Regions from separate parts of the Homo sapiens genome. Here all the other regions are reported to be linked to region 3. Evidence: microRNA targets listed by miRTarBase, many of them from high-throughput screens and not tested one by one. Region 3 holds a microRNA gene; each other region holds the end of a gene's coding sequence.
Evidence for each region. The annotated mature microRNA hsa-miR-378f reads ACUGGACUUGGAGCCAGAAG and lies in region 3 at 2,086-2,105, opposite strand. An mRNA with a match to its seed (bases 2 to 7 or 8) in the 3' UTR can be bound and repressed. Matches are read on the target gene's strand: a 7mer-m8 pairs with bases 2 to 8, a 7mer-A1 pairs with bases 2 to 7 and ends in A, and an 8mer does both.

Region 1: the mRNA of LGSN is a reported target of hsa-miR-378f. Seed matches in the 3' UTR shown: 7mer-m8 at 1,396-1,402.
Region 2: miRTarBase lists VPS37B as a target of hsa-miR-378f. Seed matches in the 3' UTR shown: 8mer at 2,158-2,165.

The regions. Positions count from the first base shown.
Region 1 is chr6:63,277,269-63,280,520 of GRCh38, forward strand. It overlaps LGSN (lengsin, lens protein with glutamine synthetase domain), which reads right to left. Exons shown (of 4, transcript NM_016571.3): 4 at 1-3,252. The coding sequence ends at 2,753. Among named protein-coding and RNA genes, the nearest start is that of LGSN, 41 kb to the right of the region's middle.
Region 2 is chr12:122,864,351-122,867,595 of GRCh38, forward strand. VPS37B (VPS37B subunit of ESCRT-I) reads right to left here. Exons shown (of 4, transcript NM_024667.3): 4 at 980-3,245. The coding sequence ends at 2,766. It overlaps LOC124903039 (a long non-coding RNA gene), which reads left to right. Exons shown (of 2, transcript XR_007063500.1): 1 at 1-232; 2 at 650-1,007. Among named protein-coding and RNA genes, the nearest start is that of VPS37B, 30 kb to the right of the region's middle.
Region 3 is chr1:23,927,974-23,931,225 of GRCh38, reverse strand. MIR378F (microRNA 378f) reads right to left here and starts at 2,156; the gene lies at 2,079-2,156.

The DNA of each region.
Region 1 (3,252 bases), not on the chromosome of region 3:
CATTAAGGCCCGTGGACTATAAAGGGATATGCCACTTTATAGGGATGGGTTAGAGCCAATCCCATTTTTTGGATGTGTGGATCCCTTTGATTAACTCAGATTATCCTCTCTAGAAGTGGGAATATTGAGGAAGTCGTCTTTCACTGGTTCTTATACCTTTGTTCTTTCATCCCCAAATCCCTCAAATTCCCCACTCATATGCACACACTCACACACAAACACACATACAACACACACATGGAAAAGAGAAAATAAATTTCATTGCAACTAACAAAGAATCAAAATCATTGTGGCTTAAAGAAGATAGAAGTTTGGTTCTCTCTCAGGTAAACATCTGGATGTAGGCAAGTCAAACTGCTCTACAAAGCAGAGATTCCACCTTATTACTGTACCCTGTGGAGCAAACCTCCCTTCCCAAGGACATAATCCTAGCCACATTATCTGTAGGCCACTCAGCAGGAAGGGTGAAGGCAGCAAGAGAAAGAAAGGGCAGAGCACACAGCATCCGTCATTTAAAAAAATGTTCTAAAGTGTGGTAGGGCATGGTGGCTCATGCCTGTAATCCTAGCACTTTGGGAGGCCAAGGCAGGCTGATCACCTGAGTTCAGGAGTTCAAGACCAGACTGGCCAATATGGTGAAACCCCATCTCTACTAAAAGGCCAGGCATGGTAGCAGGCACCTGGGATCCCAGCTACTTGGGAGGCTGAGGCAGGAGAATTACTTGAACCCAGGGGGCAGAGGTTGCAGTGAGCCAAGACCCCCCCACATTGCACTTCAGCCTGGGTGACAAAGCGAGACTCCATCTCGGAAAAAAAAAAAAAATACAAGAAAAGAAAAGAAAATGTCCTAAAGAACTTATATGCAACACTTCTACTTTCACCTCTTTGCACTGAACCTAATAACATGACCACATCCAACCTTAATGAAGGCTCAGAAATATCATTTCATTTTTCATTGCTTTCAAAGAACATATTGAGGTTTTATTACTGAGAACAGAGGGGAAAATGAACAGAGGGGAATTTTCTAGCAGACAGCTAGAAAATTGGCATGAGAGTCTTCCTTATCCCTCCCATGATGTAATGTGTGGGATTTCATTCTGGAGGTTTCAGGACAGGTTCCCTTCCTTCCCCCAGCTACCCTACACTATCTTTCTCTCTACCCCATATGCATCCATGAATTTTATTCTTCTCTTTTTTTTAAGACAGTGTCTCACTCTGTCACCCAAGCTGGAGTGCAGTGGTGTGATTATGGCTCACTGCAGCCTGAAACTCCCAGGCTCAAGCGATCCTCCCTTCTCAGCCTCCCACGTAGCTGGGACTACAGGCATGTGCCACCATGCGAGGCATTTTTTTTTTTTTTTTTGTAGAAACAGGGGTCTCACTATGTGGTCCAGGCTGGACTCAAACTCCTGGCCTCAAGCAATCCTCCTGCCTTGGCCTCCCAAAGTGCTGGGAACTTTCTTCTTATGTATCCAAACACACTTCTCCTGCTCAAAGGAAAAAAGAAGGGAGTAATTAGTGAAGGATAGACTGACTTTCACTATTTAAGCTACTGAGTAATATGAATTTTAATAAGAGGATCTGAGCCAAATTCTAATCCTCTGCTTGTGCAATTGCTATCTAAATTGAGACTACAGTCAGTTTTAATTGAACATAAAATCTGCTGTTTGATCCTAAGCAGTAGAATAATGTTTCATTTGCTAGTAAGTGGATTTTGGACTTCTTCCCAAAAGCAGCTAAACTTTTGTGATAGTTACAATATTATCTCATTCAAACAAAGGCCTGGAACAGGTAATATTCTCTGGGGAGGTACCAACCTCTGTGAGCAGCAGATTCAGTAATTTGAATAACAAACTTAAACTCCAAACATAGCCCTGGCTAGCCAGGCAGTTGTTCTCACACTCCACAGAGCACTAGAGGTTTCAGAGGAACATCTAGTTTCAAAGAATGAAGCAGAGTAGACAGAGCCCACCTACCCTCACACACAAACATCTTTCTATCTATACTTTGTGTATTGAACTTCTATATGAGGCATTGTTAAAAGAAAGGCTTTAACTACTTTTAAAATCTGACCTCGTTGTTCTCAGCTCCAATTCTATTCCTTAGGGATTTGTTTCTTGAGGACATTATAACCTTGAAGTTCATAAGCTTTTCAGGAGCTAGTGGAGAAGGGTGAAAAGAGAAGAGACTTAGGGGAAAACTGCCTACCTGTCATTATATTTTGGCAAAAGTTTATTTAACTTGTTTAGAAAGACCATAATGGTGCATACAACCTGGATTCACAATATTATTTGATTAGCGAGACTATATTAGTATATTTGTCTCCCTGGAAATCATAACCTATGTGTACCATTAAAATTTTTTCTCCTTTTCTTTTTTTTCTTTTTTAGTCATTTAAATTTTGCTTTCTAATGCTTAAGTCTTTTTTTTCTTAATGTGCGAATATATTTATTGCCACCCAAAATTGGATATTCTTATCCAGGTCAACATACACATAGGAAATGACTGACAAGATCTGGTAAGTTTGCATATTATAGCTTCACCACAACTTTGTTGTTTGTTTCTGTTATCAGAATCTTCTCAGCAGTCCTACTTCATCTGTCAAATATTCCATGGACAAAAAAAAAAGTCAAAAGCATTCGTAATCTTGTTATTGTTGCTGTTGTTAATTACAAAAGTTCAGTCTTTTTGTTTTGGTAGATTAGCTTTAAGTAACAATTACATGTCTAAAGGAGTAGTTGTGAGCTCTATTCTAAATAAAATACTCTAAGAATTTATTTCTCTCTGCAGCTATTTCTTCATTCTCCAACTCATATTTCTTCATGGCAACAAAATATCGAATAAAGGTTTCTCCTAGAGCCTGTCTCAGGCATTGATCTTCTTCCAGTGCCACAAGGGCATCTTCTAGTTTTAAAGGGATCTCAGAAGGTTCCACTTGGTAAAAGTCTGTGCTCTCATCTGGACCAGCCAAGACCTCATTACTGCTATGAAGTCCATCTAAGCCGGCAGCAACAGTTGCAGCCAGCACCAAGTAAGGGTTTGCTGTTGCTGAGCCTAGTTTATTTTCTATCCGGGTGCCTTTCTCTCCATGACATTTGATATTAAATATACAGCTGTTGTCATTGTATCCCCATGTTGTAGGCACACTCTTCTTCAGGTCTTTCCTGTCCTTGGAATAACGCTTTCGGCAGCTAACAGAAGGCGCCATCAGGCAGCTGAGCGCAGCAGAGTGCTTCAAGAGTCCTGCCAACC
Region 2 (3,245 bases), not on the chromosome of region 3:
AAGACTCTGTGAAGTCCAGCATCCTCACTGGAGTGGACAACAGATTTGGCTATAAGCTTCCTGGCAGCCACTGGGAAGAAAGAAACTATCACACACTTTTTCTTTAAGGCTAACTGGCTTCTCAGGAAATCCTTCCCTCTTCCTCACAGAAAAACCACAGAAATTTCTCCTGTACATTCTCATAGAACAATGATGTGCCAGGAATGGCAGCTATTACAGGAGACAGCAACAGGTGAGCTTGCTCTCATCTCAGTTCCTCAAGTCCCTTGCAGGGGCATTGTGACCCAGATACACAGCTTAGCTGGGGTGGTGAGGACGCAGGCACACGGCTCAGCCGGGGCGACGGGCATACCTAGCTGCAGGCGCACGGCTCAGCTGGGGCGGCGGACATACATAGCTGCAGGCGCACGGCTCAGCCGGGGCGGCGGGCACAGGGCAGTTCTGTAGCTCTGCAAGGAGGCAGGGTTTGCAGGGTCCCCTCCTCTCGGCCTAGAGAAGGAAACAGCACCCACTGGGCTTTGAAATGGGCAGAGGCAACTGCCTTCTTGAAACACCTGCTGGCAAGTCCCCAAAGCAAAACATCAGAGCCACTGGTTTTCCCACTAAAAACCAACACAGAAAATCCTAACAAGTACCACCATTCACACAGCACACGGCGGCAACCTCACGGACAGAGAGCAGGCACAGTCTGAGCCCTGAGGTCACCCTCAGTCCCCTACTTGGACACAGTGGCTGTGATCCTGAAGACACCCTCTTAAGACACAGAACATGCCCTGTACGTGACTGCTGTTTATGAGACTGGTGACCAAGAGGGTAAGAGGCCCCACCTGTGCCAGGGGCCCTGGACAGGCAGAGATTTTGTCTTCAGCTTCAAAAACAGACGTCCCAGCCAGCTTCCCTGCTGGAACTTTGATCACTGATGTTTCAGAACCAGACATCATGAACATCCACATCCCCAAGTAAATAAGTGACAGGCCTGTTATTAATAATTCTCTATTTATTAAAAAGGGTCCTACAGCTTTACAGCCACAGCACCGGACACGGCCCTGGACAGCGACGGCGAGCCCGGCCAGGGGCCGCTTTGCAACTTCAATGCCAAGCTCACGTCTGGCTGCGACCGTGGCAGGCTGTGGCATCCCCGACAGCGGCCGGTGGCGGAGGTATGGGGGCGGGTGGCACCGCTCACTCGAGATTCACAGAACATGGCAAGCCCGCCTGACTGGCATGGCAGTGAATCGTCCTGTACAGCTTCATTTCCTTTAAGAAAACAGTTACAGTAGAGTTCAAGTCCGAGAGCAGGAATGTACGGTCACTGAGGACAAAAGGCAGTGGCCTGGCCCGTGGCCCAGACCCCGCTTCAGTTCTGCCTTCTGTCACCCTGGCGGCTAGGCACAGGTCGGGGCCCTGGATGCCCGACAAGTGACAGGGGAGGGGCGGGCCAGAAGGTCCACTGGTAAGCACCTCGGCCTTTTCCGTCAACAGGTGCCACTGCCCCCTGCTGGGCCCTGGGCCTTCAGCACACATGGCACGTGAAGATGAGGTCCCACAGGGGTGGGGGAAGAGCAGGTGCAGACGGTTGGAGTGCAGCCCCGTCCCTCAATCCCATGGGGCGGGCTTTCGCCAAACCCCTAACGTTGCCCACCCTGAGGCCCAGCCACCAGCCACCCAGGGGCAGAGGATATTGGCTAAGGGTAGCCTGGGTCAAGGCGGCCGGACGTCTTGACCACCTGTAACAGGGCAATGAACTTGGACAAGCCCTTCAGAGAAAGCAGAGCCGGGGCCTTGCCCAGCCCCTAGCAGGTGTGAGTCCCGGCACCTGGGGAAGCTAAGGCACAGCACGGACACCCGAGGGGGGGGCACCGTGCACTGCTTGCACAAAAGGAAATTGCATCCACTTCATCGGCATTTCGATCTGCTCAAGACAGTATCTGCATTTTTTATAAAATTTCCCTGAATGGTCTTGGGAGTGTCAAAAAAGTTTTTTCAATATAAAACAGGAAAATCACACACGTAGTAAAAATATTGGGGGATTATTTCTTCATAGAAACCTTCAGGGCCGGCTCCAGGCAGGCGGGAGAGGAGGAGCTGGGGACACAATTTGCTGTGCAAAGTCCCACTCGTGCGCTCCCCTCCCACACCAGTGGCCGTTCTCCGGCCTCTGGACTCGGCAGTGGGCCCAGTGCAAACTTTGCTTGTGGCTCTGAAGCAAGAGCAGCAGCCAGGTCAGGCGGTGACTATGGTGACCTCTCCCCAACAGATTCAGTGAGCAACAACGCAGCCACAGGTGGTGGCCCAGCCACGGCGCTCTTCCAGGCCGGCCGGCGCCCACCCGCCCTCACCAGGGCTGCAGTGGCCGGTGGGTGAGACACATAGGACTGTCTTTCGAAAATAAAATAAGTATCATGAACCATGCTCATTAAATAAAGCTGCAACAGAAGGACCACGATTCTAAATGGGACTGGGGGAGAGGCCTATTTCTTCCCAAACATGAGTTCATCAACGCTAAGATACTTAGAAATCACACGGATAATGCAAACCGATGCAACGCACAGGTGTCAGGCTGTAACCCGGCACACACAACTGCCTTGATGCCCAAAGCCTGGGCTCCTACTACTCACCACTGACCTACAGTTCTAAAATCAGACAGACACGCTGGCCCAGGGCCCCAGAGCCCTTGGCACAGAGCGGACCTCCAGCCTCCTTCCCGTGAGCAGAGCACAACACGCCAGGTGGAAGAAGTCTCCCGGGAAGGACCGCGCCGGCGCTCACTGGAGGATGAAACCCGGCTGGTGTGGAGGGAGCCGGGGCGGGGGTCTCTGAGGGAGAGGTGGCGGATATGGGGACACGAACTGCGAAGAGAATCCTTGCTGAGTGGGGAGGCCCACGCGGGGGGGCAGGGGCGGGCACTGTAATCCTGGGTACGGCACGGCCTGTCCCGAACTCATGGCCGCAGTAAACGGGGTGGCTAAGCGTCCCGCAGGCACCGGGGGTGGTGGGGGGGGGATGCGCCGAGGTGCAACGGCAGGAGGCCCACTGGCCTCTGGGGCAGGGTAGGGAAGGGGGGCGGTAGGTGCCAGTTCGGGCAGCCTGGGGGGCAGCGGGGCCAGGGCCTGTGGGAGTCTCTGCCCCTTTAGGACCATCTCCTGGAGCTTCTCGATTTTCACCCGTCGCATGTGGGCCAGTTTCCGTTTGCTCTGATAGACATCAATGAAGGAATCCAGAGGAAGTTCTCCATCCAGAAACTT
Region 3 (3,252 bases):
CAACCTCCTTCTTACCCTGAGGAACGTGTCAGGGAGTGTCTGAATGAGTTATAAAGATTCTCTTCTCCTCTTTTCCCCCTTCTTTTGTGACCACATCTGCAAACTCTGAAGAAAGAACATGTTGGTTTGGGTTTAAAACCCAGAATAGAAAGCTGGCATTAGAAACGTTTCAGGAATGCTGAGAATTTTTAGAGGTGTTCTTTTTTTTATTTTTTGAGACAGAGTTTCGCTCTTGTTGCGTAGGCTGGAGTGCAGTGGCGCAACCTCAGCTCACTGCAACCTCCGCCTTCCAGGTTCAAGTGATTCCCCAGCCTCAGCCTCCTGAGTAGCTGGGATTACAGGCATCCGCCACCAGCCCCAGCTAATATTTTGTATTTTTAGTAGAGATGGGGTTTCACCATGTTGGCCAGGCTGGTCTCGAACTCCTGACCTCAGGTGATCCACCTGCCTCAGCCTCCCAAAGTGCTGGGATTACGGGTATGAGCCACTGCGCCTGGCCTAGAATGTGTTCTTAAAGGTTCTTGTTCTCATTATGTTTTTATGAGCAGGTATAATTGTCTTAGTGTTTCGGCTTAATAGAGGAATCCACTCCATTCAAATATTTTTTTTTTCTGAATCCCAACTCAGTCCTTGGCACTGGATGGGATGCTGTGAGGGTGCAGAGAGGAATAAGACGTGGGGCTTGCCCTTAAGGAGCTTTAACAGGAAGACCCAGAAATAGGAGCAACTATGTCTGCTATAAGGCAGAACAGGCCAGATGCTATCAGGGAGTTGCAAGTAACCATAAACATGTGCCAAACACAGTCTCTACAAAAAAAAAAAAAAAAAAAAAAAAAAAAGCAGGGTATGGTGGCTCAAGCCTGTAGTCCCAGCTACTTGGGAGGCTGAGGTGGGAGGTGGGAGGATCACTTGAGCCCGGGAGGTCGAGGCTGCAGTGAGCTGTGGTTGCGCCACTGCACTCCAGCCTGGGCAACAACCAGAGTGAGAACATATCTCAAAAAAAAGAAAAAGTTTTCGGCCGGGTGCAGTGGCTCACACCTATAATCCCAGCACTCTGGGAGGCTGAGGCAGGTGGATCACCTGAGGTCGGGAGTTCGGAACCAGCTTGACCAACATGGAGAAACCCCATCTCTACTAAAAATACAAAATTAGCCAGGTGTGGTGGCGCACGCCTGTAACCCCAGCTATTCAGGAGCCTGAGGCAGGAGAATCGCTTGAACCCGGGAGGTGGAGGTTGCGGTGAGCCGAGATCGTGCCATTGCACTCCAGCCTGGGTGACAGAGTGAGACTCTATCTCAAATAAATAAATAAAGTTTCCTCCCCTCTGCACATGCACTCCTTTCATTTACAGAAGCCCTTTTCTACACTCTCACAAGCTGTCCTGAGAGTTTCACCCACCCCCGCGGGGACAGCACAGTGTTAAGAGCACAAGCTCTGGAGCAAGGCAGCCTAGTGTTGAATCCCAGCTCTGCCGTGCAGACGATGCATAACTCTGGGCAAGTTACTTAACATCTCTGGGACAGTTTCCCCATTGGGAAAATGAAGATAATATTTCCTGTTGGCCCAGCACAAGTGGCTCATGCCTGTAATCCCAGCACTTTGGGAGGCCAAGTCGGGAGGATCACTTGAGCCCAGGAGTTCAAGACCAGCCTGGGCAACATGGCAAAACCTCATCTCTACAAAAAATACAAAAATTAGCTGGGTGTGGTGGCACACGTCTGTAGTCCCAGCTACTTGGAGGCTGAGGTGGGAGGATCACTTGAGCCCAGGAGGTCTAGGCTGCAGTGAGCAGTGATCGTGCCACTGTACTCCAGGCTGGGTGACAAAGCAAGACCCTGTCTCAAATAATAATAATAATAATAATAATAATAGTAATAATATTCCTTATCTTGTTGGGTGGTTATGCAGATTAAGTGAAGTGGTCAATTTAAAGGGTTTAGTGGTCAGTTCATACAGAGCATTCAATGAATTAGCAGTTGTGACATCTCCATTTCCTAAATGAGAAGGCTGAGGTGTAACTGGTCCAACTGATTTGCCCAGAATTATTCAGCTAGTAAGCAGTAAGGGCAGGGCTTGAGCCCAAGACTTCTGGCTCCAAGTCCAGTGCTCGTTCTGTTGTTTAGCAGCCTGAAAACTATGGGAGTCCAGGACCTGACCCAGGGGCTGGGGAGGAAGAGCAGGAAGTGGGAGGAGTGGAGCTCCAGAGAGGTTTCCTAAGATAACATGGAATGGAGACTTTCTTTGAGCTGCTATATGTGAAAGCCTTCGTCTAAGGATTATTTTCAACAGCAACTCAATTTATTGGGTATCCTACTCAATGTATTAGTGTAATTTCTTTCTTTACATTGAATGTTCAACACCTTTTTTTTTTTTTTTTTGAGATGGAGTCTCACTGTGTCACCTAGGTTGGTGTGCAGTGGCGTGATCTCGGCTCACTGCAACCTCTGTCTTTCGAGTTCAAGCGATTCTCCAGCCTCAGCTTCCTGAGTAGCTGGGATTACAGGTGCACGCCACCCCACGCCCAGCTAATTTTTGTATTTTTAGTAGAGACATGGTTTCGCCATGTTGGCCAGGCTGGTCTCAATCTCCTGACCTCACGTGATCCACCTGCCTGGCCTCCCTGTTGGGATTACAGGTGTGAGCCACTGTGCCCAGCTGAATGTTCAATTTCTTTTGATTGATCCCTCTTCTGTGTTCCCAAACACACTGTACAAATTCTGCTATTGAAGAGTAATTGCCCCAAAATTTAGTGGCTTAAAGCAACAAGAATCATTTCATCATCTTTCAAGGTTTCAGAGGGTCAGGAATTCAGAAAGGGATTGCCTGTGTGGTCTGACTTGGGGTCTCTCATGTGGTTGCTGGTGGTGAATGGTGAACGGAGCTGGATGGGCATAGCTCTGCCTTCATTTACTCTCAGAGCGGGCCAGGCGCAGTGGCTCACGCCTGTAATCCCAGCACTCTGGGAGGCCGAGGCGGGCAGATCACGAGGTCAGGAGATCAAGACCATCCTGGCTAACACGGTGAAACCCCGTCTCTACTGAAAATACAAAAAACTTAGCCGGGCGTGGGTGGCGCGCGTCTGTAGTCCCAGCTACTCGGGAGGCTGAGGCAGGAGAATGGCGTGAACCCGGGAGGCGGAGCTTGCAGTGAGCCCAGATCACGCCACTGCGCTCCAGCCTGGGCAACAGAGTGAGACTCCTTCTCAAAAAAAAAAAAAAAAAATTATCACTCTGACATACTCTACTGGTTGAA